4 linked regions of the Homo sapiens genome follow. The protein of the gene in region 4 interacts with the protein of the main gene of each other region in a pairwise test. Each region holds a gene or a part of one and is shown on either strand. Other genes may lie near its edges.

What was found.
Region 1: the proteins of UQCRH (region 4) and NDFIP1 interact in binary tests that used the Homo sapiens proteins (3 or more experiments, as listed by UniProt).
Region 2: the proteins of UQCRH (region 4) and RNF24 interact in binary tests that used the Homo sapiens proteins (3 or more experiments, as listed by UniProt).
Region 3: the proteins of UQCRH (region 4) and NDFIP2 interact in binary tests that used the Homo sapiens proteins (3 or more experiments, as listed by UniProt).

The regions. Positions count from the first base shown.
Region 1 is NC_000005.10:142,111,354-142,119,582, forward strand, and holds part of NDFIP1 (NEDD4 family-interacting protein 1), read left to right. Parts: intron 1-8,229. UniProt on the Homo sapiens protein: Activates HECT domain-containing E3 ubiquitin-protein ligases, including NEDD4 and ITCH, and consequently modulates the stability of their targets. As a result, controls many cellular processes.
Region 2 is NC_000020.11:4,005,277-4,013,505, forward strand, and holds part of RNF24 (RING finger protein 24), read right to left. Parts: intron 1-8,229. UniProt on the Homo sapiens protein: May play a role in TRPCs intracellular trafficking.
Region 3 is NC_000013.11:79,476,069-79,484,825, reverse strand, and holds the start of NDFIP2 (NEDD4 family-interacting protein 2), read right to left. Parts: upstream 3,672-8,757; 5' UTR 3,623-3,671; coding exon 3,302-3,622; intron 1-3,301. UniProt on the Homo sapiens protein: Activates HECT domain-containing E3 ubiquitin-protein ligases, including ITCH, NEDD4, NEDD4L, SMURF2, WWP1 and WWP2, and consequently modulates the stability of their targets. As a result, may control many cellular processes.
Region 4 is NC_000001.11:46,312,791-46,317,598, forward strand, and holds the end of UQCRH (cytochrome b-c1 complex subunit 6, mitochondrial isoform 1 precursor), read left to right. Parts: intron 1-3,761; coding exon 3,762-3,794; 3' UTR 3,795-3,986; downstream 3,987-4,808. UniProt on the Homo sapiens protein: Component of the ubiquinol-cytochrome c oxidoreductase, a multisubunit transmembrane complex that is part of the mitochondrial electron transport chain which drives oxidative phosphorylation.

The sequences.
Region 1 (8,229 bases), on a different chromosome or scaffold from region 4:
GTATGGCTGAATCATAATTTAACTAATTGCTTATCTTTGGTCACTAAGAATGTTTACAGTTTTTTTCATTGAAATTTATTTCACATACGTCTTCAACCGTTTCCTTAGCATAAATTACTAGCCATGGAAATGCCTGGTCAGCGAATATGCATTTTTAAAAGGCTTTTGAATTATAGAATGATGGTGAATTGTCCAGGCAACTTGATAGGAGCATGATACTCTTTGGTTGTCACACAGGGCTGTTCTGACTTCTATTTGATCTGGTTAATCAAATTGAGCTAGTTTTCTCACCAAGTAAATGTAATGGAAAACTGTATGATTCATTCATAAATGCAAACACAGTTTTGTCTTTATGGTCTTTTTATTGGTAGTGTAATATGTGGACAACTTGAATTTAGCATAGTGACAGACTATGCAGAAAGGGTAGGCTCAACCAGGTGTGGTGGCTCACACCTGTAATCACAGCACTTTGGGAGGCCGAGGTGGGCGGATCACTTGAGGTCAGGAGTTCGAGACCAGCCTGGCCAACATGGCAAAACCTTGCCTCTACTAAAAATACAAAAATTAGCCAGGTGTGGTGGCACTCACCTGTAATCCCAGCTACTTGGGAGGCTGAGGCAGGAGAATTGCTTGAACCTGGGAGGCAGAAGTTGCAGTGAGCCAAGATTGTGCCACTGAACCCCAGCCTGGGTGACAGAGTGGGACTGTCTCAAAAAAAACCAAAACAAAACAAAACAAAAAATGGCCAGGCAAGGTGGCTCATGCCTGTAATCCCAGCACTTTGGGAGGCCAAGGCAGGCAGATCACAAAGATCACGAGGTCAAGAGATTGAGACCATCCTGGCCAACATGTGAAACCCCATCTCTATTAAAAATACAAAAATTAGCTGGGCGTGGTGGCGTGCACCTGTAGTCCCAGCTACTCAGGAGGCTGAGGCAGGAGAATCGCTTGAACCTGGGAGGCAGATGTTTCAGTGAACTGAGATCGTGCCACTGCACTCCTGCCTGGCGACAGAGCAAGACTCTGTTTAAAAAAAAAAGCACGGTGTGGTGGTGCACATCTGTAACTCCAGCTACTTGGGAGGCTGAGGCAGGAAAATCACTTGAACCCAGGAGGCAGAGTTTGCAGTAGGCTGGGATCGCGCCACTGTACTCCAGGTTGGGTGAGCAAGACTGTCTTAAAAAAAAAAAAAAAAAAAGGCACCGAGGTGGGCGGATCACAAGGTCAGGAGATCGAGACCATCCTGGCTAACATGGTGAAACCCCATCTCTACTAAAAATACAAAAAATTAGTTGGGCGTGGTGGCACGTGCCTGTAGTAGTCCCAGCTACTCGGGAGGCTGAGGCAGGAGAAACCCGGGAGGTGAAGATTGCAGTGAGCCGAGATCGCGCCACTGCACTCCAGGCTGGGCGACGAAGTGAGACTCTGTCCAAAAAAAAAAAAAAGAGGCTAGGCTTATAGGTTCCCCTGGCATTATTTTATTTTTTTTTTCATTTTTGCCTTTTGAAACTGAGACTGTCTCAGACAGTATGGAAGCACTATTTTAGAAAGACCTAAGTAGGCCCATACTGAGTGCTGAGAAACCTGTTGCGTGTTTCTCTCTCTGAGGACGTTAACTCCCGTTCATCCATAGATGAACGCAGATCTTCTGCGGTAGATGTGTGCATGAATTTTGCCAATTCATTTCAAGTATTTTGGGATACTTGGATTTGAATTCAATGTAAGTGGGTGATGATGACACTGCCATGTAGGTTCAAACAGATTACAGAATGTTTAGTTCTGGACTTGCCTCATTACCTGCTAAAGAAGTTGCCCACTTGTGAGCATCACCAATACTCTGTATGATAGTTTGATGACATTATAGTGCAGATTTTGGAATGGTATACTTTTGGATAAATTCTCTCAGGATTATGGAGGAATATTTTGATGAGCATAAGAATTTCATCTCTGATAGGTCAAACCATATTCATGTTAAATTATTAGATGAAGTAATGATCCTGGAGGAAGGAATGAATAGTGCTTATGTGGCTTTTTTGCTTATTTTTCAGTTTCAAAAGAAGTTATATCACAGAATGCCAACATAACCTAAATGTCAAAGTTTCTTAAGTTATATGCTGTATTTGTGGCCTACATGGTCAGTGATCAAAGAAAATTTATAAAAATATTAGGAAGATGGGTAAATTATTCCTTTGAAAACTTTAATTGTGGTAAAATACACATAAAATTTACCATGTTAACCACTTTTAAGTATACAGTTTAGTGGCATTAAGTACATTCACATTGTTGTGGAACCAGTCCATCTCCAGAACTTTGTCACCTTGCAGAACTGAAACTCCATATCCATTAAACAATAACTCTCCATTCCCCCTCCTCCAGCCCCTGGAAGCCACCATTCTACTTTCTATGTATTTGACTACCGTAGGTACCTCTCATAAGTGGAATTAGACAGGATTTGTCCTTTTGTGACTGGCATATGTCACTTAGCATAATGTCTTCAGAGTTCATCCATGTTGTAGCATGTGTCAGAATTTCCTGCCTCTTTAAGGCTGAATAATAGTCCATTTTATATATGTACCACATTTTGTTTATGCATTCATTTGTTGACGGATGCTTGGTTTGCTTCTACCTTTTGGTCATTGTGAGTAATGCTGCTATAAAAAACATGAGTCTACAAATATCTTTCAAGTCCCTGCTTTCAGTTCTTTTGGATATACCCAGAAATGGAATTGCTGGGTCATACGGCAATTCTATTTTTAAGTTTTCGAGAAACTCCCATACTGTTTTCCATGGCAGCTTCACCATTTTATTTTCCCACCAACAATGCATAAGGATTCCAATTTCTCCATATCCTCAACATACTTGTTATGTTCTCTTTTTTGTTTTTGTTTTTTTGATAGTAGCCATCTAATGGGTGTGAAGTGGTATCTCATTGCAGTATTGATCCCTATTTCCCTAATAATTAGCGATGTTGAGCATCTTTTCATGTGCTTATTGGCCATTGATATTTTCTTTAGAGAAAATGTGTATTCATGTTCTTTGTTCATTTTTGAATTGAGTTTTTTGTTGTCGAGTTGTAGGAGTAATTTCTTCATGATGTTTACATTTTCAACTTTTTACTATGGAAATTTCAAACACATACAATAATAAAGTAGTGTAAGAAATTTTATGTACCATCACCCAGCTTCAGCAATTGTGAATGAATGGCCAATATTATTTCACTTATACTCACCACATTATTTTGAAACGAATCCTAGAAATCATATATTGATAAATATTTCTATGTGTAACGCTAAAAGAAAACAAATGGTATGATATTTCAAGAAGATATCACATGAGGAATATATCATGAGAGCTCTCTTGTAATCTGTGAGGAGTATGGAAACAGGATTTGTCAGTGTCGGGCTGTGGATCCATAACTAACTGTCCTTTGTATTGATTGGGCTCACTCTTGCCAAGCCTCATGCTTTGTTTTTGTAGCAGTGATAGATTCCTGTTAATCTATCCTTGTTTTCTTACCTGATCCCATGGGTGACCACTTGTTAGGCAAGATTTATTTGGCTTAATCATACTATCTGTGTCCTGAAAATAGGGCAGTGCTTCCTGGTTTGGGCAGAAACCAAGGCCCAGTTGAACTGCTCTAGGGAATTTTGCTCTAAGCTGATGCCACCAGTAGTTTAACTGCACATAACTTCAAATTGTTTTATCCTAGACATTAATTATATTTCATAATTTTATGGTAGATTATAAAGTAAATCCTACCATGAGAATAACTTCATATTTTTATTAAGAAAGAAAAAAAGTCTCCAAGAGATTCAAGTGACATCCTCAGATTTATTTGTTTTTAGGGCTTTAAAATAATTATTTTGGTTTCTTAAAATGTTCTTGTTTTACCTTTAAGCAAGTACAACAGCTTAGAAGAATTATATTCTTTTTTGTTTGTTTGTTTTGAGATGGAGTGTCTTTCTTCTTGCTCAGGCTGGAAGGCAATGGCGCGATCTCGGCTCACTGCAACCTCCGCCTCCCAGGTTCAAGCGATTCTCCTGCCTCAGCCTCCTGAGTAGCTGGGATTACAGGTGCCCACCACCACGCCCAGCTAATTTTTTGTATTTTTCGTAGAGATGGGGTTTCACCATGTTGGCCAGGCTGGTCTTGAACTCCTGACCTCAAGTGATCTGCCCGCCTCGGTCTCCCAAAGTGCTGGGATTACAGGTGTGAGCCACTGCGCCCGGCCTATATTCTTATAATAATGGACAATTTAGATAAAGCAACTTTAATACTTCTGTTCCATTCATACTGAAAATTGGCATGATGGTTTATCTTTTTTTCAAGTCATTGTTGCCAATAAGCTAGGCAACTGGCAAACATCATGTATGAAATTTTTTGGGCTTGACATACTTTCCAGTGGTAATTGCTTCTAGTGGTTGGCTAGGTGGGGGTATGAGTTAGAGTAGGCTCTGGGTATCCACAGGTTCTACATTCGCAGATTCAACCAACTGCAGATTGAAAATAGGGGAAAATAACCATACAATAATAAATAATAGTGCAAGTAAAATATACACTATAACAGCTATTTTACATAGCATTTACATTGTATTAAGTGTTATAAGTAAAGATGATTTAAAGTACATGAGGTAGGTTATGTGTAAATACTATACCATTTTATGTCAGAGGCTTGTGCATCCTCCCATTTTGGTATCTGTGGGGAGTCCTGGAACCAATTCCCAGTGGATACTGAGGGATGACTGTATGATATGTCTTGTTAACTTGACCAAGAGTGGTAGTAAAGCAAGTGTAACTTGATATCACTTAGCACATCCTGCTGTTACAATAAGGCTTACTCATGATTTTTCTGAATAACATAATTTATATTAAATGTCCTAAATACTAGCACTGATCAAGTTTAAGAGCATTCCTAGTGAAATATTTTCTTATTAATGCAGTTCCCTTCATATGTATATTTATTTATTTATTTCCTTCCTTCCTTCCTTCCTTCCTTCTTTCTCTCTCTCTCTCTCTCTCTTTCTTTCTTTCTTTCAACAGAGTCTTGCTCTGTTCCCCAGGCTGGAGTGCAGTGGCGCAATCTTGGCACACTGCAACCCCTGCCTTCCAGTTTGAAGCCATTCTCCTGCCTCAGCCTCTGGAGTAGCTGGGACTACAGGTGCCCGCCAGCAGGCCCGGCTAATTTTTGTATTTTTAGTAGAGGTGGGGTTTCACCATGTTGGCCAGGCTAGTCTCGAACTCCTGACTTCAAATGATCTACCCACCTTGGCTTACAGAGATTACAGGTGTGAGCCACCATGCCCAGGCTACCTTCATATGTATTTTTCTTTTCTCTTCTCTCCTCTTCTTTTTTATTTATTTATTTATTTATTTTTGAGACAGGGTCTGGTTCTGTCACCTAGGCTGTAGTGCAGTGGTGAGAGCTCTGCTCACTGCAATCTCCGCCTCCTGGGTTCAAGAGATTCTCGTGCCTCAGCTTCCCAAGTAGCTGGTGTTACAGGTGCATGCCACCACGCCTGGCTAATTTTTGTATTTTTAGTAGAGATGGGGTTTCACCACGTTGCCCAGGCTGGTCTCGAACTCCTGGCCTTAAGTGATCTGCCCATCTCTGCCTCCCAAAGTGCTGGGATTACAGGCATGAGCCACCGTGCCCGGCCCATATGTATAATATATTTCTTATCCCCCTCCCCGAGCAATTTAGCATAATCTTTGACCATTTTTCTGTTTTTGTCTTTTAAATTAGTTTATCTCAGCAATATTAATTAGTACTTACCATAATCAAAGGCTTGAATACAATTTGGAGGTCTATCTGGAGACTGGACAATTTATGAATAGAGATATAAGGGTTTAGGGAGTGGTGCCTGTTTAATAATGATTTCATTTTCTTTTTTTGCTTTTTTTTTTTTTTTGAGACGGAGTCTCACTCTGTCGCCAGGCTGGAGTGCAGTGGCGAAATCTCAGCTCACTGCAACCTCCGCCTCCTGGGCTCAAGTGATTCTCCTGCCTCAGTCTCCTGAGTAGCTGGGACTACAGGCGCCCGCTATCACGCCCAGCTAATTTTTTCTATTTTTAGCAGAGGGGGTTTCACCATGTTGGCCAAGATGGTCTCGATCTCTTGACCTCGTGATCCACCCGCCTCCATCTCCCAAAGTGCTGGGATTACAGGTGTGAGCCACTGCGCCTGGCCGATTTCATTTTATCATTCGATGCTTAAATGTGATATTTAAAATTAAGCATTTTGTATTAAATAGTAATACATTCTTCATGTGCTAGATTCAAACAGTAACTTTCTAAAGAAAAACTTGATTTCCCTTTCCTCCCTATCTCTTTGCAGAGCTGTAACTGCTCCTCAAGTTTGGTGTGTGTTCTACAGGCTTTTTTTTTTTTTTTTTTGAGACAGGGCCTCACTCTGCACCCAGGCTGGAGTGCAGCCACATAGTCTCGGCTCACTGCAACCCTCCATCTTCAGGCTTTCTTCTTAACCTTTCCTTGGCTTTAAATGTTTTTTAAATAAATCTGTACTTTCAAATAGACTTTACTTTTTGGAACTTTTTTCCCCCTAAGATGGGTTCCTGCTATGTTGCTACCCAGGCTGGCGTCAAACTCCTTGGCTCAAGCGATCATTCCCCCACTGACCTCCCAAGTAGCTGGGACCACAGGCACACGCCAGCACACCCAGCTGAAACATTTTTAATTTTTCAGAAACACTGAGAAGACAGTAGAGAGTTTCCATATGCCCTATGCCCAGCTTTCCCTATTAGCATCTTATATCAGTATGGTACGGTTTTCACAATTATTGAACCAATATTAGTACATTGTTATCAATTAAAGTCTGTACTTTGTTCAGATTTTCTAAGTTTTTACCTAATGTCCTTTTTCTGTTCCAGGATCCCATCCAGGATCCAGGATGATATAATGTGGTAATGTTACATTTAGTCGTCCTGTCTCCTTAGGCTCTTCTTGGCTGTGAGTTTCTCAAACTTTCCTTGTTTTTGATGAGCTTGACAGTTTTGAGGAGTATTGGTCAGGTCTTTGTAGAATGTCCCTCAATTGGGGTTTGTTTGATGTTTTTCTCATGATTAGACTGGGGCTGTGGATTTGGGGGAAGACCACAGGTAAAGTGCTGTTCTCATCACATCATATCAAGAATGCACACTTTCAACATGACTTATCATTGTTGACATTGACCTTGATCACCTGGCTGAGGTAGTGTTTCTCAGGTTTCTCTTCTGTAAAGATACGTTTTACCCCACTTTCCATACTTACTCTTGGGAAGGAAGTCACTATGCATGGTCCACACATAAGGAGTGGGGAGTTATGTAACACCTCGCTGAGGGCCAAGTATTGACATGAATTATTTGGAATTTCCTGCATGGGGCATTTGTCTCTGCTCTGATAATTTGTTTAGTATTTATATCTGTATAGACTCATAAATATTTATTTTATTCTTCCAATTATCCAATAACTGCTTTATTTTATTGCTTAAATTGCATACCTCCATCATTGTGGATTTTTTTTTAACCACTTCCATACTTTTTGGCACTAGGCTCATCTTATATATTTCCTGCACTATCCTAGAATCAGGCATTTTTCCAAGGAGCCTAGGTTCCTTTTATTGAAAAATAATACTACAAACCAAGATCTGTGCTCCTTGCTACTAGGGTGTCATTGCTTTTAGGCCTTCTAAGCTGACAGAGCAAGGAACTATATATGTCTGTATATTAACCTGTGGGTATACACATCTGTAACTATTTCTGTATGTACCATCTATCTATATTAAGCTAAACATAAGTTCATACTAATATCTCCACCTCTAATTTGTTACCATATGGGTCACTCTAGCCTACTCCCCTTATCTATAAACTCCCACTCCAACATGGAGAAACCTGGCTCACTTCCACCATCCATTTACATCATTCTTCAGTTCTGATATACATGTGTAAGTTGTATCAGAATTATTAACCCACACCCCTGTGGGAAATAGTATTATAACCACTACAGGACAAAGCATATGTACAGTTCCTTTGCCTTTAGTCTTAAAAACTCTACTTATTTCCAAATGTTACTTAGGTCAGCACCTTTTCCTCCACCCACTTGAGTGAGGTTGTTTCAAACATTTATAATACAGTTATCTTGTTTTGTCACATTTTGCATACATCCTCCAGCCACCTAAGTGGATTTTTAAAATTTGCATACCTTGAGATTCTTTCTTTGTGCTATCAAGTTCTA
Region 2 (8,229 bases), on a different chromosome or scaffold from region 4:
AACCAATATGAAAGATGATTTTCTGAGTATAATATTGCCCCTGGCTATTGATATACTGTTCTGTGATTTAAGAAAAAAAAAATCTTACTACGCCGAAAATTCCATCTGCCCTGTTTACAGAGATAATCGACAAGTTTGAGTAAAAGCCTTTATTTAATTATAGCCATGCATGAGATTTCCAACACATTTCTGAAGAAGTTTTGCAACTTGTTTCATGCTGAAGAAAATGAATGAAAGCCTACACCTTTGATTTCCCTTCCCACCCATTTCCCACAAACTACATTAACTCATAATTTGACGTTTCATTATCTGTCAACTTTTTTCATTCAGTCCAAGATAAAGAGACTATTTAGATATAATATTTAGGTTCTATTTCAAATTTATATCACTGAGCATAATTTCACATGCTCAGATTTGGGAAGGAACAATAAAGAGATACAGGTAGCTATAATTTTTTTTTGGTTTGCCAAGATGAACTTAATAAACTTAACAGATACTGCAGCACCATTCAATCTGCACATTTGAAAAAAAAATTAAGGCAACATAAAGCATACTGATAGACAGCAGTGAAACTATTAATTTTGAGAATTCAATAAACACTGTCATCAAATGAACTGAATGCTCATTATTCTTACAGTATGATATTTGCACTTATTTTGCTGTCAATTAAACAATTATGATATTAAATCTGCTAAAGGAAGTGAAGAACTGTATCTGATACAAGCACCTGTCTAATCGGGAAAACATAAGTACCATCAAAATGAGAGACAAGCTAAGACTACATACATAATTAACCTTCTATAGAATCTATGGTTTATGGCTAGGTGTGGTGGCTCACATTTGTAATCCCCGCACTCTAGGAGGCTGAGGCGGGTAGAACACCTGAGGTCAAGACCAGCCTGGCCAACATGGTGAAACCCTGTCTCTACTAAAAATACAAAAATTAGCTGAGTGTGGTGGCGCATGCCTGTAATCCTAGCTACTTGGGAGGCTGAGGCAGAAGAATCGCTTGAACCCAGGAGGCAGAGGTTGCGGTGAGCAGAAAGAGCACCACTGCACTCCAGCCTGGGTGACAGAGCAAGTCTCTGTCTCAAAAAAAAAAAAAAGTCTATGGTTTACACAGGAGCAAGCTTTACAACAAGATGGAAAAATTTTCCTAATTCAAATGATCAAAACTTTAGAAGATGACAACAAAAGGAACGGGCAAACCTCACTTTAAGAAAAGTTGACAAATAAAAACAGGAACTTTAAAAGCAGGTAACCTGGAAGTTACTTACAATATAAAAACATTCACTACAGTTCATTGCAACTTTAATACACCTAACAGTAGTGAATCCATAAAAATTCAAATTACATTAAATTTCCAGAGCAAATTTGTAACACGAGGTTCACTTGTAACATTATCTAAATAGCAGTTTCCTTTCCCTTGCCACTGCAGGCTTTCTCCAACTCCCTGGGGTACTATGGAGGGCCAGTGCAACTCTCTGGTATCAGACTATCCTTAGGGCACATGGAGGGCCCAGGCCAGCTTTCCCAAGAGTGGCCAGCCAAAAGCAAGGCCACTGGCCAGCTATTCTTGGGCCAGCTGGCATGGAACAAAGTGTCTGGTTCCTACCTCCAAAGCACAGGAGGCTCTGCCAGCTGGCTTTCAAAGGACTGCACTAGTTGGAATGCTCACAGTTCCTTTCAAACCATCTGGCATTCTTTTAGAACCCTCAATTTACCCAACACTACATTCTGAGATTTGAATTGCTCAGATAATTGAAGGAGTCCCCACTACCTACCTAGGTAAGAAAAGAAAGAGGCAGAGCAAACGCTAAGTCAATTACTTCAAGAAACAGTTTCTACAACTAAAAACTGCTCTCAAGTTTAGCTTGTATATTTTGTATTTTAAAATCTAAAATATTCCCATGATTATTAAGCAAACTTTCAAAGTAAAAACCAAGACAAGTAATAAGAGAATAAGCTAAAACAGACTATTTAACATGCAGAAAAGCTGTAGGAATCCCTTAGGGTTAGAAGTACCTGACTCTCCCTAGCCTGAACTTCTACAGAGCCTGTCTGTATTTTTTATGTGGTCCTCAGAATATACTTCGTACTGCTACATATATTTACCCTCCCAGCTAGCTAGTAGATGAAAAGAACATTGTCTTATAGCTGTTTCAAAAGAAAAAAAAATCTGTTGATGATATATTGGGTGTTTTTAAAGCTCCATTTCCAGAAATAAGAAAACTTAATGTGGAATAACATGAAGAAAGAACCTCACCTCTGAGAAAACCAAATAAACAAAGAACAGGACTTGGCTTGAAATAAAAATATTTTATCAAGTGATCAAAATGATTTATTGGCTGGGCATGGTGGCTCCTGCCTGTAATCCTAGCACTTTGGGAGGTGCTGGTAGGGTCACTTGAGCCCAGGAGTTTGAGACCAGCCTGGGCAACATAGTGAGACCCTGTCTCTACAAAAAAAAAAAAAAAAAAAGAAAAAAAATTAGCCTGGCATGCTGGTGTGTGCCTGTGGTCGCAGCTACTTGGGAGGTTGAGGTGGGAGGATTGTTTGAGCCCTGGAGGTTAAGGCTGCAGTGAGTTGGAGATCACACCACTGCACTGCAGCCTGGGCGACAGAACAAGACTCTCTCTCTTAAAAACAAACACACCCCCGCCCCCCACAAAACCAAGAACAGCTGAATCATCATATTGATAGCCCATATACCCTAGGAGATATAGTATTTTGAACAAAAATATTATAGAGACCAAGTCAGAGTCAAATATTATAAACTGGAGGAGGCTATAATAATTACTATTATTTTTCATTGAGTTTACTCCCAAGACGAGTACTGAGTTTCGTGTTTTACATATTATCTCATTTGGAACACAAAACAAACACATGAGGTAGGAACTATTATTAACCACATTACAAATGAAGAAAGAGAGAGGTTAGGAAACCTGCTGGAGGTCACATAGCAAAAAGTGAAAGAGCTGGAATTCAACTCCAAGCAGTCTGATGCCAGAGTCCAGGTGCAAGACTGCAAATATATATATATATTATATATATAATATATATATTATACATGTAATATGTATAATATATATATTATATATATAATATATATATTATATATGTAATATGTATAATATATATATTATATATAATATATAATATGTATAATATATATAATATATAATATATAATATGTATAATATATAATATAATATAATATATATATTATACATATTATATATTATATATATATTATTTATATATATTATATATATATATATTTTTTTTTGAGACAGAGTCTCGCTCTGTCACCCAGGCTGGAGTGCAATGGCACAATCTTGGCTCACTGCAACCTCCACCTCCCAGGTTCAAGCAATTCTCTGTCTCAGCCTCCCGAGTAACTGGGATTACAGGCACCCGCCACCACACCCGGCTAATTTGTTGTATTTTTAGTAAGATGGGGTTTCACCATCTTGGCCAGGCTGGTCTTGAACTCCTGACCTCATGATCCACCCGCCTTGACCTCCCAAAGTGCTGGGATTACAGGCATAAGCCACCATGCCCGGCCCAAGACTGCCAATATTAAGTCATACTTATGAAAGAATGAAATGTAACATAGGGCAAAATTTGATCATTAATATATTCTTCATAATTGTTTCAATTCTTAAGTGTAGCAAAAAATGGTGAGTAATTAAAAAACATGGATTCTCTTGTTAGAAATTTTTAAAAATCAAAAGCTATTTTACCAGGTCAGTTGTGCCTCTTTTGCCCATGTACTGAGTAGACACTTGTGCCACCTGCTGTCCTAGGGGACAGAGTGGTAAACAGGACAGATGAGGTCCTTGCCTTCCTGGAGCTGACCTTCTATTAGGGGTAAGTCACACAAAAATTATTAAACAACAGAATTTCAGAGGGTGGTACGTACTATAGAGGAGGTAGGGAAGGCACGTAAACTTCTCTTTTGAGAGACTTAACCATGTAGGTAAATAGAAAGGGATAGAGGAGGGTCAGGGAAAAGTTGTTTGCTGAAGCTTATTCTGATTTTAAAGATGGGCAACGTCACGGCATATGTGTATGCTGACATGGATAGCCCCCTGGAGAGTTGCTGATGATGCAAGAGAGAGGGCAAAAATGCTAAAGCTGTGAGATATGAGGGGGCATGAGGTATAGAAGATGTGAGGAGGAACACAGTAGAAAGGGGAGCTTGCCTCCGACAGGAGACAGAAAACATGGGTCTAAGGAAGGCAGATTTCTACATTTGGTTGGGGGGAAGATGAGTGGTTTCTGTCTGATATCTCCTAAACCCTCAATGAACTATGAGGTCAGCTTATCTGAGTAGGAGGGGTGGGTTGCTGATAAGTTTAAGGAGTGGAGAGAAGTTATGAAATAGTGATAGGCAAAAAGATCTTATTAAGATTCAATGGTAGCTTTGCCGGGCAGTGCTGAGTGTCTACTTCGGATTTTTGGTCATGAATCTGAAGTTCTCTTGTAATATCCAGCCACTTGGGTGGTGTCATGGAAAAGCCAAATGAATGATAAAGCAGCTATAAATAGAAAAAAAAGGGTTTTTAATTTTAAAATTTTTAAAGAGTAAACAAAGGATGTTTTAAAAATATGTATCCAAATTAGCCAGGCATGGTGGCGGGCACCTGTAATCCCAGCAACTGGGGAGGCTGAGGCAGGAGAATCGCTTGAACCTGGGAGGCAGAGGTCGAAGTGAGCCGAGATCACGCCACTGCACTCCAGCCTGGGTGAAAGAGTGAGACCCTGTCACAAACAAACAAACAAACAAACAAACAAACAAACAAACAAACAAGGCCAGATGCGGTGGCTCATGCCTGCAATCCCAGCACTTTGGGAGGCTGAGGTAGGCAGATCACGAGGTCAGGATTTCGAGACCAGCCTGACCAACATAGTGAAACCCCGTCTCCACCAGAAATACAAAAATTAGCTGGACATGGTGGCGCACGCCTGTAGTCCCAGCTACTCGGGAGGCTGAGGCAGGAGAATTGCTTGAACCCGGGAAGCAGAGGTTGTGGTGAGCCGAGATTGCACCACTGTACTCCAGCCTAGGTGACAGAGTGAGACTCCATCTCAAAATAATAATAATAATATGTATCCATGAGATAAACACAAAAATACTGACAATGTTCTGTGAAGCTGTGATTTATGCAGCTCCTTTTGCTTCCATCTTCTCATCACAGAAATTCTTGCAAACAATATATTTGTCACATTTAATAATGACATATTTAATCATGAAGCTCAAGTTAGTTTCTTTTTGGTCATTTCTTTTTTTGTCATTTCCTAAGGTGGATTTTTAAAAAATGCACCTGACAGCCGTCATGTTGGTTCATTTCACTGCTTAAAAGAAACTCTCTCTGATGTCAATTGATATTTTCATTGTTGATTTCATTTAAAAGTAAAAAAACTTAATCCCCTCTCTCAATGAACACATACACATCTACAGTGCTTAATCTCAATGCCTAAACAGTGGTCACAAGGAAAATGGGAAGGGAGATGCTGGCCTGATGGCGCTGGGCACCTAGCAGTGCCAGGTGCATGTTCTTGATCTTGCAGCTGTGCTCTTAAAACACAATGCTCAAGATCCAAAACGTTCGGGGGAGAATTCCTGTCTGCACAGGTTCAAGAGGAGGAAACAAAGACCCCACTGCTTGATGGAGGCACAAAGAATAGCATATTGGGTGAGATGGGGGGAGTATGCACACACATACATATACAGCCTTTTTGGAAAATACAATCTACCCCACAAGCAAAAGTAAAGAAAAATATCTATTCCAAGGTACATCATGAAATGTCAGGAACACCAGGGATAAACTGAAGATCCTAAAATCTTTCAGAGTGGGAAGAAAAAGGGAATGAGGATTAAAATGACATTGGACTTCTCAATAGTGACACTGGAAGCTAATGGAACAATGTCTTCAAAACAGTCACATTAATTTTCAATCCAGATTTTAACACCAAGCTAAACTACCATTCAAGAGTGAAGGTAAAATGAAGGCATTTCCAGACATGTAACTTCTGAATTCAGGAAGGAATTTCAGATTTTGTATGTACCCTTTCTCAGGAAGCTACTCAAGAATAAGGAAGACACAGGGTCCAGGAAATAGAAGACCTAACACAGGAGGAAGGCAAAGGGAATTCCCAAGATGATGACAAAGGGAAGTCCCAGGATGATGGCTATGCAGTAGTCCAGGGAGCAAACAATTCCAGACTGGAGTAGGAGAGAGGGGGCTCCAGCAGGACCATCTCCTGGGGAAAAGATATGAAAGTGAGTGACTACCTGAGAATATTCAAAGATAATCAGTTTTGTCATAGAGTTTGAATGAATTAGTGACTGATACAAAGAAAACTCAGCAAATGAAAACCAAACAAACAAAAGAGGCAATTATTTAATTCAGGAGCAACAAAAGTTGTTCAAGAAGAAAACACAGTAATAGCACCCTACGTGGCTCAACTGTGAATAACAGGTACACTGTCAGTCATATAAATCCTGAATACCGACCTAACTGTCAAGTATGAGTGGGAAATGGAAGGATAGTTATGTGAGACAGTTAAGTCTTCAACTTCCAAAATAGAAGTCCACAGAGAATATCCAAAAGTGAAGAGCTAAGAAATAGCAGTATAAACATTAAAAATGAAATAAGTATAAAGGTAAATACCAAAAGAAACCAGTAAGAGTTGAGAGTGGTTTAACTATATAATATATAAGACTGCTGATTTTGATTTTTTCTCAGTCTCAACATGGCAATTTCATATGATTCAAGCTAACACATTGTAATAGCATTATTACTGATCTTAGAATAAACTCCCATTTAAAACAATAAACAATTATTGGCCGGGCGCGGTGGCTCACACCTATAATCACAGCACTTTGGGAGGCTAAGGCAGGCAGATGGCTTGAGGCCAGGAGCTCAAGACCAGTCTGGCCAACATGGCAAAACTCCGTCTCTACTAAAAATACAAAAAAAAATTAGCCAGGCGTGGTGGCCAGTGCCTGTATTCCCAGCTATTCGGGAAGCTGAGGCATGAGAATCACTTGAACCTGGGAGACGGAGGCTGCAGTCAGCCGAGATCACGCCACTGCACTCCAGCCTAGGGGACAGGGTGAGACTCCATCTCAAAAAAAAAAAACAACAAAACACCCAAAAAACAAAAAAGCAATTATTGATAGAGAATGCTCAATGGAAAAATAAATTACTTTTTATTATGAGACATTACTGGGAGGATAATAGATCCTAGTTAACAAAGTGTTACCATCTATGCTCTTACCATCACTAACATAATATTACTATTCTAATGAATAAATATTTACTATTAAAACAGCACTTAACATTATTTTATCTATTTTAAGGATCTAAAAGTTAGTTTAGATTTTTTCTTCAATCATCATACTACAGAATGCTAAACTATGGGTTGGCAAATACTTTGATTAACAGAATGCTGAATAACAAGGCCAGGCTGTGTTTAGGTTCCTTTGTTGATATTAAAAATAGCTAAGTCACTCTTGCAAAATTAAACTTCCATGAAATTGCGATACTGTGCAAGCTTATTTCAGTGATAATTCCGGTTATGCTACTCTGTTTATCTAAGACTTCCCCTTACGGTTTGTTTTAAGGAGACTCCTAAAAAATGTCTTATGCAGTCAAGACAGGCAGTTTATAAATGTACTGGGTTACTTCAACATTAGTGACTTTAGTTAGTAAAGCTCTTGTTTTTTTTTTTCTGCTTCATTTTTCCTTCATAAAAGCCTTGTTTTAAATTAACTTATCTGAATTAAATTAATTGATATTAAGATTTTATTTAAATCATGCATTAAAACCAAAACATCCCCAATTGAAAAATCAACTTTCATTAATTTTTTTTTACTCTTACAAAAAAGAATTTGAACGTGGTAAGAATTTTACTAAGAATAATGTATCCTGAACTGACCATGGAAAATTTCCCCTTCAAATTAAAAGCAAATGTTTTAAACAGAGGGAATATACATAAACAGATGCTGTGGAAGACTGCTTAGTTTACATTTCATTTTCCACTGAAAACTACTAGGAATTAAAATACATGTGATTTTTAAAAATATTACAGAGAATCTTAAAGAAAACAGAACCCATACAATTATTCATATCATCCAATATAAGCGCCTCTTAATTTTTTAAAACCGCTATTTTGAATCCAAAGATCATAATAAAAATAGCTTTTTTTTCAGACGGA
Region 3 (8,757 bases), on a different chromosome or scaffold from region 4:
TGCAAACAGCACAATCTAATATATAAGCCCAGATGGCTTTAAAACCTGTAGGTTTTTTACCCGTTAATAGTCAGGCCTCCTTCAAGCCTCCTTCTCAGCTAATTTATCGAGGGCAACTCTAATTCCCCAGATACAAGAGCAAAGTACTCAGATCTTTGTAGAATGAATACTTCAAATTATGTTCCATAGAAAATTGATATTGTAGAAATGTTAACATAATCTTAAAATTTTAAAAACAAAGAACAAAACAAAACAAAGATTAGGAAGAGCTAGGTTAAAGAAATCCAAATCACTGTCTTTACTGCAGAATTTTTCATGGTTTTAATATGCTAATGTATTATAAATCTTCCAGTTACACTTACTATCATTCTGAAATACAGTTTGGGAAATTACTGCTACAATCAACACTGCCAATTTAACTTGTACACAGAATAAGAAGTCAGCTTGGTACAGGTACAATCTTAGAAGTCAGCTTGGTACAGGTACATAATCCTTTAAAATAGAGAACTTTGGCCGGGCTCTGTGGCTCACACCTGTAATCCCAGCACTTTGAGAGGCCAAGGCGGGCAGATTATTTGAGGTCAGGAGTTCGAGACCAGCCTGGCCAACATGCTGAAACCCCATCTCTACTAAAATACAAAAATTAGCCAGGTGTGGTGCACCACACTTGTAGTCCCAGTGACTCAGGAGGCTGAGGCAGGAAAATCACTTGAACCCAGGAGGCGGATGTTGCAGTGAGCCGAGATCACGCCACTGCACTCCAGCCTGAGTGACAGACACTCCATCTCAAAAAATAAAAATAAATAAATAAATAAATAATAAAATAACGAACATCAAAGTTAGAATGTGGTCTAGCAGCTGCAAGCCAAGTCAACTTCGTCATAGTTAGCAACACTGCTCATTTACTAACAAACAAAACTGAATTTCCCATAAAATTACGTGTCATACCTGGCTTTTTCTGAAATTAGAAGGGTAACAATCAAGAATTTTTGTAGCTCTAAACTGTTATCCACTGCTTTACTCAATAAATTTTGGATGCTTTTAACAATGAAAGGAAAGAAGAGATCACAGAAAAAGCAGTTTCTAGATAAAGCTTGTGCATTGGCTAATGGTAGTAAGTCCTTCTGATGACCCTGAGCATCACTGCTAGCTTTCCAGTATGAAAAGCTGTTTTTAAACTCTTTAAGTAAGTGAAAAATTAACATTGCATACCATCTCACCCCTAAGTATACTTGCCTATCTCCTGACTTAGTCATCCCTTAACATTCAACAACTCAAGTGGTTTATTGCTCCAGTTTATTAAGCATTCCAGTTTTCCCAAAAACTGAGCTAAAGGCAACCACAAAATAGTTGTGTTCATCATATAAGCCAGAGCTGAAGACTGATCCCTAGTTTAAAAAGTCTATTGAAAATGTCAATTCAGCTTTTTCTCTGGCATACACTGATGTTATTAATCAGGCCATTATAAACAAAACCAAGAGTTATACTAGATAGGTTAAATGACTACGTAAATTGTGTAACTCTAACACTAACATTGCCTTACAATGTTAGTTGTAAGTTGCCTTACAAGGAGAACAGATCGATGTCCTACCTAAAGTACTACCTTTAGAGGGACTGGTAGGCTTTATCTTTAGAAGAACTGATTTTTGCCCTCTGTTCTCAAGGAACATTCAAAGTCTATGTAGGACACATCGTCAGTTTGAAAAAAACGAGGGGAGGGGGCAGCAATAAAATATGCCCATTTATTTTGAAAGGAGTTGTTGGGAAAACAAATATCTTAAAACTGAGAGCTACATAAATTAACAGTGTTTTGGGTAGTGACGTCTGTAGGAAAAATGAAACAAGTTTCACTGCTGATATTATTCAATATTTATATCATTTTATTTTTGCTAACATTTACAAACCTAGAAATGCCTTTCAAACCATCAAAAGGGTGTACACTGACAACTTGAAAAACGCTTTCCATACTGGGAGAAACAGTATTTCCCAAGTTGTTGAGAAAAGCTGATAAATTTTCAAAGAATTCGGAATATGGACCTTTTGTAGGTTTTAAGGAATGCAAACCAATTGAAAATGGAAGCCTCATGAGCTTTTATCTTAGAAAAATGCAAAATTACATACTTTAGGATCTCATCTTACAGTTCCTTCATATTTGCCAAAATGTACTTATTAATAGAAAGTCTTGGCTTATAACCTGTCTTACATGTGCAAATAGATTTGAAAGTTGAAACCTGGGACTAACATACCTAAATTTGTAAAATTTTATAAACCATAAACTGCATCACCAGTGCTATGTATTGTTTTTCTCCTCTCCCTCAGTAAATGGGCTGAAAGTTTGTAGAATGACATGCTACCTAGCTGCAACAGCACAACAGCAGAGTCAACTATTGCTCAGTCCATCTTTAACTAAGGTTTACAACAGGAATCTCCAACGTCACCACCAGAATACACAAAGAAAAATATATTTAAAAATTGACACTGAAAATATAGAGGAACACATTTCACTTTTTTCAACATAGTTACCAAAGTTTACACAGTTAAGCTGGAAAACCTTGTATTTAACGAAAAATAATTTTTCAAACAAGATTAGAATTTGTTCTACTAAAACTACCTCTGTTTCCCCTCTAACCAAAAAAAAAAAAAAAAAAAAAAAAAAGAAAGAAAGAAAGAAAGAAAAAGTGGGGATTACCAAAAAATACAGTCATTTTTAATACTAACATAATGGAAAAGGACAAAATGACAAGGTTAACGAGCAGAGAGACAAGATCAGCATTATGGCTAGTCTTTCTCTACAGTTCCACAATTCCTAACCCACATTTTTGCCAAATCCACATCCCACCCCACGCAGTACTTACACCTCCACCCACCTACTCACCCACCCCATTTATGACGGCGATCACCTTCCGGGCAGGTATGTGAAGTCAGCCCCATTTCCAGTAGACAATCGACTAGAATGTCTCAGGAGTGACTGAGTCAGAGAATAAGAAAATGATAAAGTGAGAAATTAAAACGGATACAAGTTGTAAGGTGTGTGGAGGGAGGGCGTCTCACAGCGGGGCTAAGGGTGCGGGTGAGGAGCTAAGCAGACTTGGGGCGAGAGAGAAGGGTTTCGAAGGAGTCCTAGGCAGGAGTGCGCAGGTGAGGCGAGTGAAGCAGCTCCAGCCAGAAGATCCAAAAAAACAAAACAAAACACAACAAAAAAAAGCCACAGCTTTTCCTCCGGGAATAACCTGAGGAAAGGGACTCTCGGGACGCCGCGGCGGGAGGCAGTCCCGGGAGGCACAGGAGGCCGGGAACTCACCACCTGGTAGCGCCCAGTCCCCGGCTGGTGGTGATCCATCCTGCCCGGCTCGGGATCCGGCTTCCGAGAGAGGGAGTCTTCTCCGTGCTCAGCTCCCACGGCCACCCCCGTCGACGACGTCGTCGCCGCAGGGCCCCTTCCGCCTCCGTTCCTGCAGCCGCGGTCTCCCGGCGGAAGCTCTTCACTTCCTGTGGCTCCCGCAGCGGCCGCCGAGACCTCCGCGTTGGTCGCGGTTCCGCGGAGAAGCTCCGGGGCGCCGCGCGCGCTATTGAGCATGCTCGGACCGCTCGCGCAGACTCGCTGGCTCCGCCGGCGTGCCATCCGCGCCGCCAGTGGGAGGGTATAGCTGGGTGGGAGGAGATGGAAAAGTAAGGCAAGTCCGGGGGAGCTGTCTAGGTTGTCAACCTGTCGAGTGGGCGGTCGCAAAAGGCGCGCGGGGGGCGGGAATGACCCGTCCTTGATTGGTCTTTTCTGTGTGCGCGAGTTTCGCGCAGGCACGAGCCAGTGCGCCTTCTCACCACACAGAGACAGAGGCTGACAAGGGATGGGGCCGCGTTCCTAGAACACCTGAGGACAGGTCGCCCGGGTACCCGACACTTCCTCACCCAGCGTAGGACATGGGGAGGAGATTCATCTCTAGAACATTCCCAAAACGCTTATTCAAAATCATTCGTAAGATAAGCGATTTTTTAAAGACTAATATAGAGTAGTTAGAGTTTACAGAAAAATTGAGAAGTTACAGAGATATCCCATATACACTTGGCTCCTACGCATGCATAACCCCCCACCATTATCAACATCCCCCCTCAGAGTGGTACATGTGTTACGACTGATGAACCTGCATTGACACCTCATCATCACTCAAAGTCCATAGTTACCTCAGGGTTCACTCAGGTTGTTGTATACTCCTCGAGTTAGAACAAATGTGTAATGGCAGGTATCCATCATTATAGTATCCTACAGAGTATTTCCACTGCCCTGAAATTCTTCTGTGGGGTAATTTTTGTTTTTGTTTGTTGTTTTTTTAGAGATGGGGTCTCACTATATTGCCCAGACTGGAGTGCAGTGGCTGTTAGCAGGCGCAGTCATGGCTCACTGTAGCCTCGAACTCCTCGGCCCAAGCTATCCACCTGCCTCAGCCTCTGGAGTAGCTGAGACTACAGGCACTAGCTCTTTGGTTACTTTTTAAACTCTTTTTTCCACTTTTTGGTAATAAGAGATTTAAAAATCCAACGGACTCTCCAGACAACTCTCAAAGAAAGAGGTCTCTAGAGTTCTAGGTTACTGGAAGGACGTTAGAAGAAAGTAATGAAATCAGATAGGATTATTTTGTGGTAATACTCAATAATTCCAATTGATTTAACAGCAAGGAATCACTTGGGAGCACTGTTAGTAGTATCTCACTGTCTGGTTAACCACACATGACACGGCATAAAGCATATTTCTCTAGCAAGTAGAAGAGTATGACAGAGCAGCGAAAAGTACCTTTTAACCTGAAGACCAACGTTCTATACCCTAAAAACTATGATGCTGCTTGATGTGGCCCAGCTATGTTTTTAACATAACACCACATTTTCCCTAAATGATCTTACAGTGGAGCGCCCTGAAGGGAAGGAAAGGGATCTGGAGCCCCATTTATTTCCTTCATGAATGTCCAGAGGAGATCCTTGAAATGAAGACTGCCACTGGGTGAGCCTAATCAACTGGTTAAAATAGCAAGATAGAATAAAAACAGAAACTCTTTGAGAGATTGACAACTAAAAAATGTAAGCCTTCCTCATAGTTCTTTTTAAAGCATTCATCAACTCTTCCTATTTGTGCCGTTTTGACATGTCTAATAGCATAAAGCATTACTGTGCTAACAATAAGAGGCAGTGATATCTCATACTTAAATATTGTTAAACTTGCCTTGTTTTGATCTTAATGTATTTTAGTTTCTAAGCCAATAAACATATGCCATTTTATTGGTATTACTGGTACAAACGCTCACTCTCACAATTTCACTCCAAATGGTATTGCCTCTCGATGACCAAAACAACAGCCAGTATCAGCAAACTGAAATTAGATCCTTATATCACTTACGATCTATAAGATTTATTTAGAACTTAATTTTATATGCATATGTGTTTTCATTAATCATTCATGTGTTCATCTGTTTCTCAAATAGATGGCTGCTCAGGGCAGAGACCATTTCTTACACCCAATGCAGCACTGAGAACATAAAAGTAAAAATCAAAGATCTGACCAAAAGCAGACATCTTGAATCCTGATAGAGTAACAGATTCTTTCTATTTTACCCTCCTCCCAGATTCTCTGAACATTTTGCTAATCTAGTGGAGTAACAAATTCAGCAGGAAAGCGTATTTGTAATGAGGAAGAGAAAGAGGGGAAGGAGAAGTAGAACAACAGCTTACTAGTATAGAGCCCTTTCTAAGCCAGTACTATACATCTATTATTTTAGCCTCACCAGAACTTCATGATATAGGCACAGTTGCACTCCTTGGTTAACAGATGAGGGGGGAAAATAAGGCACAAGGAGTTTCATGAACTTGGCTAATGCCAAATCACTAGTAGGTGATGACAGACATCAGAGCCTCCACCATATTAAGCACTATATTAAGCATAATGCACCTAATAAAGAAGAGTCCTTGTCTCTTTCCTCTTCCTAGCCACCACTACTGTGAAACGTGCAGAAGACATAAAAAGATAGCAATGTATCACAAAGAGCCAATCTGACTTCTTTAAATCCCACCTTCTTGATCTATGTAAAATAATAATTCTTATTCATCATCCCCAAAAGAGCCATTCTGAGCTTCTTTTGCCCACTTTACAACTAAGCCCATGTGACCTGTAATGGACCATTACAAGCAGAGGCACTGAGTTGTCCCACTAGGAGAAACTTACTTGAGATGCAGTGGGAATAACAATATTCTTTACCATTTTACAGACCTTAAGCAACATCCAATAATATTTTCAATCCCTGGTATTATGGCGACAACTCTAGTTATCTAAGGAATTTGCAGTGGTGCAGCACTAGAAGCTACCTCAAGTAGAATTGTAGAATTTTAGTGCACTTCACTAACACCTCTCATTCTGGCTTGATCAATTTTCATCTCCAAACACACAGCCACCCAAAATTTTACTAGTGCTGCTCTGCAGTACTGGAGTAGACATGGAGATAAGCTGCCCAGATTCCCTTTCAAGAAAGCACACTCTGCCCAGCTGGAAGGAATGTGGCTGTCAGACAACTTCCAATTGGTAGCTTTGTCAGGGTCTCCCTCAGCTTTCAACCTGAGGAGGTGCTATTTTCAGGGTGGCACCCAGCCACTAACTGAGCAAGGCAGTGGTACAAGGCTCTGGCTATTTTTGCCAGACACTGAAGCCCTTAAAGGGACAAACTTTCAGAGTTCCCTGTGAAGCTGGCAGAGACTTTTTCAGCTCTGCAGCATGTTGCGACAGCTCCCCCTGCCCAGTCCTTTTTATTTTAACAGACATTGCTCCGCAGTGAATCTCTTGCACTGAAAACTTTATATCAGCATCTGCATCCCGGAGAACCCAACTAAGACAAGTACCAATATGTACAGTGATAGAGCAGTATTATCAAAATTGTGTTAGATAATTACAACTATCATTTTACATGGTTGGTGTTTCATCTTCAGAATAACCCTCAGGACTCTACATTGTTAGCATTTTCTCATGTGGATGTAATGTATCTGTAAGCCTTCCTACTAAGAATGATTTTGATGTTGTTCTATAGTGTGATGCTATATAGAGTTCATGGGGACCTCTTTGCCTGAGGCGTACTTCCCGTTGGGAACCCCTCCCACCTTCCCAGAAGCAGGGCCATTCCCTCTAGAGGTAAACTAGCAACTTAACATTCATCATCCTCTTTCTTATATCGTCAGATATATTGAGCTGCACACCCAAATGCCAGGATTCTTCGTTGGGAGTCCCACCAGTTAAAGAGCAGTAAGACATGCCATTGCCTACAGAAAGCCGTCTACACAGGCCTAAATCACAGGGAGGCGATGTTCCAAATTTTCCTTACCACTTCACTGATTTTTAGTTTTTTATCACTTCCTCTACCACAAAGAACTACTCAAAGTGGCTATTGATGGTTAGTGTGATCACAGATCTTAGTAATGAATTGCATTTGGAATATGTGTGGTTTTTGTATAATTACCTGTAGAATGACTGGAAAGAGGTAAAATTACATTATCTGAAAATTTCTATTTCTACCTAATGAAAATTCACTAGCAATCATTTTCTGGACATTAAATTCTAAAGCATATTTTAGAAATATAAGAAACTATTGCTTTTCACATATAAATGAAAATTAACACAATAATGACTCCAGTTTTATCTCTGAATCTTTTATAATGTATATATATCTTTTAATCAGTTTGTAGGCTTGAACCTCAGTTTAGCTACACATAGTGTTTCTTATTTAACTGGTTCTGAGATTCCGTCATCTGTTCAGCTCTATAATTTTAGAGAGGATATCTAAGTGAGCAATTTTACAAACAAGTATCTACTTCTTTTTCCTCTCTTTATTCTCCTCCAGTATGTTGAAAGAATCTGAAATAAAACTTTTTATCAGTCAAGATTCAACTAGAGAAACAGAGTCAGCAGAAGACATATCCTAAGAGATTTATTGCAAGGAATTGGCTTACACAGTTCTGTGGGCTGGTCCAGCAAGTCCGGAATCCAGAGGACAGACCCCTGTAACTCTAGGGTTGGAGCTGAAGCTGCTGTCTACAGGCAGAATTTCTTCTTCCTCAGGGAATCCTCAGTTCTGCTCTTAAGTACATTTAACTGACTCAATCAGACCCACCCAGATTATTGAGGATAATCTTCTTTACTTAAAGTCAACTGATTCAAGACTTTAATTACATCTATTAAATCACCACAATGCCTATGTGAGTGTTTGAATAATTAGGGCTGTAATCTAACCAAGTTAATAGAGAGAACTGACATTCCCTGTTTATTTAAATACAACAAACTAATATAGTATCTATATAGTAAAGATAAAAGATAGAGGAAGGAACAGGAGAAAGGAATGAAGTACCAGAGAGTTACCTTAGAAATTTAAATGAATTTCCTAAATTTAAGTTTTCCTATCAGCCTTATATAATACATATATATGATGGCATCACCAGTAAACACTTGGAAAAGATCTGAATTCTGATAAGCTGCATCTCAGTCCTAACAATATTTTTATTTAGCATTTTCATTTTTCCTTTGTTTGGTAATAGGCAACAAATGTGAGCAAATCAGTAGCCATTTTGCTTTGGGGAATTCATATTTGAACTTAGAATAACTCATAAGTTATTAAAATAATCTTTGCTTTACCTTAGGTATGGAAGGCTGTTCTCTGACCATGCTAAAGCAGGACTTTCTATGTTGTCATCTCCTTTTTACTCTGTAAGCCATAGAAGAGCAGCACTGTCACTGAG
Region 4 (4,808 bases):
AAGCAAAGTTTGATGTGGTTGCTTCTATTAAAACTAATTGGATGGCCAGTAAACGTATGAAAAGATGTTCAACATCATTAGCCACCAGGGATACTACCATGAGATAACACTTTATACCAACTGCCCACTAGGATGGCTATAATAAAGAAGATAACGAGTGTTGACGACAATGTGGAAAAGTTGGAAACCTCATACGCTGTCAGTAAAAGTGTAAATTGGTACAGCCACTGTGGAAAACATCTGGCAGTTCCTCAAAAGGCTAAATATACAGTTAATATATGACACAGCAATTACACTCGAAGATATATACCCAAGAGAAATGAAAACATATGTTCACATAAAAACTTGTACACAAATGTTCATAGAAGCATTATTTATACTACCCAAAAAGTGGAAACAACATAAGTGTCCATCAGCTAGGCTGGGCACTGTGGCTCATGCTTGTAATCGCAGAACTTTGCGAGGTCAAGGCAGGCAGATCACCTGAGCCCAGGAATTTGAGACCAGCCTGGGCAACATGGTAAAACCCTGTCTTTACAAAAAATATATATATAAAAGCCGGGCGCGGTGGCTCACGCCTGTAATCCCAGCCCTTTGGGAGGCGGAGGCGGGTGGATCATGAGGTCAGGAGATCGAGACCAGCCTGGCCAATATGGTGAAACCCCATCTCTACTAAAAATACAAAAAAATTAGCCGGGCGTGGTGGCGGGCGCCTGTAGTCCCAGCTACTTGGGAGGCTGAGGCTGGAGAATGGCGTGAACCCGGGAGGCGGAGCTTGCAGTGAGCTGAGATTGTGCCACTGCACTCCAGCCTGGGCGACAGAGCGAGACTTCATCTCAAAAAAATATAGACAGATAGATAGATAGATAGATAGATAGATAGATAGATAGATAGATATAGATAACCAGGCAAGCTGGCTCACACCTGTAGTCCTAGCTACTTGGGAGGCTGAGGTGGGAGGATCACCTGAGCCTGGGGAAGTCAAGGCTTCAGTGAGCCATGATCACGCCACTGCACTCCAGCCTGGGTGACAGACTGAGACCCTGTCTCAAAAAAAAAAAAACAAGTTCTTTTCTCAAAAATTAAACATAGAATTATGTACTATATGATCTAGCAATTTCACTTCTAGGTATATACCCAGAAGTATTGAGAGTAGGCTTAAACAGATATTTCCACATTCATATTCACAATAGCCAAAAGGTAGAAACAACCCAATTTTCCATCCATAGATGCAAAGATTTTTTTAAAATGTGCTTTGTATATACAATGGGATATTATTCAGCCTTAAAAGAGAAGGGGGCCGGGGCACGGTGGCTCATGCCTGTAATCCCAACACTTTGGGAGGCCAAGGCAGGCGGATCACAAGGTCAGGAGATTGAGACTATCCTGGCTAACACGGTAAAACCCTGTCTCAAAATACAAAAGATTAGCCGGGCATGGTGGCGGGTGCTTGTAGAACCAGCTACTTGGGAGGCTGAGGCAGGAGATTGGCATGAACCCGGGAGGCGGAGCTTGCAGTGAGCTGAGATCACGCCACTGCACTTCAGCCTGGGTACAGAGCAAGACTCCGTCTCAAAAAAAAAAAAAAAAAGAGAAGGGGCTGGGCATAGCAGCTCATGCCTGTAATCCCAGCTTTTTGGGAGGCCGAGGCAAGTGGATCACCTGCTGTCCGGAGTTCGAGACCAGCTTGACCAATATGATGAAACCCCGTCTCTACTAAAAACACAAAAATTGGCTGCGCATGGTGGTATATGCGCCTGTAATCCCAGCTACTCGGGAGGCTGAGACAGGAGAATTGCTTGAACCCCGGAGGTGGAGGCTGCGGTGAGCCAAAGTTGCGCCATTGCACTCCACCCTGGGCAACAAGAGCAAAACTCCGTCTCAAAAAAAAAAAAAAAAAGGAGGGAAACTCTGACACGTGCTGCAACATTGATGAACCTTGGAGACATTAAACTAAGTGTCAAGGAAGACAAACATTGTATTGTTCCACTTTGGTGAGGTACCTAGAATAGCAGTCACATTCATAGAGACAGAAAGTAGAATGGTAGTAACCAGGAGCTGAGGGGAGAAAGGAAATGGAGAGTTACTGTTTAATGGATATAGTTTTGATTTAGTAAGATGAAAAAGGTCCCAAGATTGGACGTTCTAGAGATTGTAGGGGACTGTATGGTTGTAGAACAATGGGAATGCACTTAACTGCCACAGAAATGTACAGTTAAAAATGATTAAAGTGGGGCCTTGTGCGGTGGTTCACACCTCCTACACTTTGGGAGGCCAAGGCAGGCATGTCACTTGAGGTCAGGAGTTTGAGACCACCTCGGACAACATGGTGAAACCTTGTCTCTACTAAAATAAAAAATTAGCTGAGTGTAGGCCAGGTGCGGTGGCTCACGCCTGTAATCCCAGCACTTTCAGAGGCTGAGGCACGTGGATCACCTGAGGTCGGGAGTTCGAGACCAGCCTGACCAACATGGAGAAACACCGTCTCTACTAAAAATACAAAATTAGCCGGGCGTGGTGGCACATGCCTATAATCCCAGCTACTAGGGAGGCTGAGGCAGGAGAATCGCTTGAACCTGGGAGGCAGAGGTTGCGGTGAGCCATTGCACTCCAGCCTGGGCAACAAGAGTGAAACTCTGTCTCAAAAAAAAAAATTAGCTGAGTGTGGTGGCGCACACTTGTAATCCCAGCTACTCAGGAGTCTGAGGCAGGAGAATCACTTGAACCCGGGAGGCGGAGGTTGCAGTGAGCCAAGATTGTACCACTGCACTCCAGCCTGGGGGACAGAGCAAGACTGCCTCAAAAAAAAAAAAAAAAAAAAGATTAAAATAGAAAAAAAAAATTACTGAAGTGGAAAATTTTATGTTAGATGTATTTTATCATAATTTTTAACAAAATAAGTACTGAACATGCTACAACCTGGATAAACCTTGCAAACATGCTAAATGCTAAGGGGAAAAAGCCAGTCACAAAGTAAAAAATATCGTATGATATGATTTGTATGAAATGTTCAAAATAGGCAAGTCATGATCTGTTCCCTGAATTAACATCCCTACTGTTGATTTTCCCCCTCCCACTGTGTGGTCATTCTAAAAATATTTACATATATTTGTCAGCCAAGCACTGGTTTAGGATCTGGGAGTAAGATAGACATGGTTCATTCCTTCACTGAGTTTATGAGCCAGCATAGGAAACAGAAGTAGAACAAGTGCTAAACTTTGGTAAGTCTCTCAGGTATACCTTTCTCAGGGTAATATTAACTGAACCCCCCGCCCCGCCTCCCATTTATTTTCCTCCTAGCATTTCCCATTATCACAGGTTACCTTATTTATGTGTTCATTTTAACTCATTACCCTGTAAGTTTCTTAAGTGGCAGGCATGTTTTGTTACAGTTATAACTCACTCAGCACTTAGAACACTACCTGGCATATAGGAGATGTCCTGTTGAATTAATATGTAATGTTAATGTCACTGATGGGGAGGTACAAGTTTTTGTGGAAAGATAGGAGGGACAGATTTGTGTGTGGATAGGGGCTTGTTTAGAGAAGGCTTGCAGGAAATGACAGTTATCAGATCTAAATTCTAAAGGAAGAATAAAAGATGAAAAAAGTGGGGAGTTCACTAGGACTCAAGTGCTGCTTGCCTATGTGAGAAGGGGAGTGGTGAGAAGAGGGGCAGTACTGTTTCAGGTCTTGAAGGACCTTGTAAGCCATGACATTAAAGCTGCCAATTGATTACCTCCTTTTCTTTCCCCCATCTAGGTGGCCCACAAACTCTTTAACAACTTGAAATAAATGTGTGGACTTAATTCACCCCAGTCTTCATCATCTGGGCATCAGAATATTTCCTTATGGTTTTGGATGTACCATTTGTTTCTTATTTGTGTAACTGTAAGTTCACATGAACCTCATGGGTTTGGCTTAGGCTGGTAGCTTCTATGTAATTCGCAATGATTCCATCTAAATAAAAGTTCTATGATCTGCAAACCTGCCCGTCTTTTTTTTTTAATTGAGAATTTTTTTTTTTAATTTGATATTTTCTTTTAGTTTTGAGGGGGTGGGGAGCGGCAAGGAGGACAGGGTCTTACTTTGTTGGCTAGGCTGGAATGCAGTGGCGCAAACAGCTCATTGCAGCCTCCACTTCCTGGGCTCAACTGACCCTCTCACCGTGGCCCCAAGTTGCTGGGACTACAGCATGCATCACCATGCCCAGCTAATTTTAAAAATATTTTGGGCCGGGCGCGGTGGCTCACACCTGTAATCCCAGCACTTTGGGAGGCCGAGGCGGGTGGATCACGAGGTCAGGGGTTCGAGACCAGCCTGACCAACATGGTGAAACCCCGTCTCTACTAAAAATAAGAATATTAGCTGGGCATGGTGGCGGGCACCTGTAGTTCTAGCTACTCAGGAGGCTTAGGCGGGAGAATTGCTTGAACCCGGGAGGCAGAAGTTGCAGTGAGCCAAGATCGCGCCACTGCACTCCAGGCTGGGCAACAGAGCGAGACTCCGTCTCAAAAAATAAAATAAAAAATATATATTTTCTAGAGATGGCATCTCTCTGTGTCCAGGCTGGTCTTGAACTCTGGCCTCAAGCAATCCTCCTGCCTCAGCCTCCCAAAGTGCTGGGATTATAGGCATGAGCCACCACACATAGACCACAATTTTTAAACACATAAGAATAGATGTACCCATCACCTAGCAAGTATGTATGTCTTCATGAGGGCTGGGCCTGGCACGGTGGCTTATACCTGTAATCCCAACCCTTTCAGAGGCTGAGGCAAGAGGATCTCTTGAAGCCAGGAGTTCAAG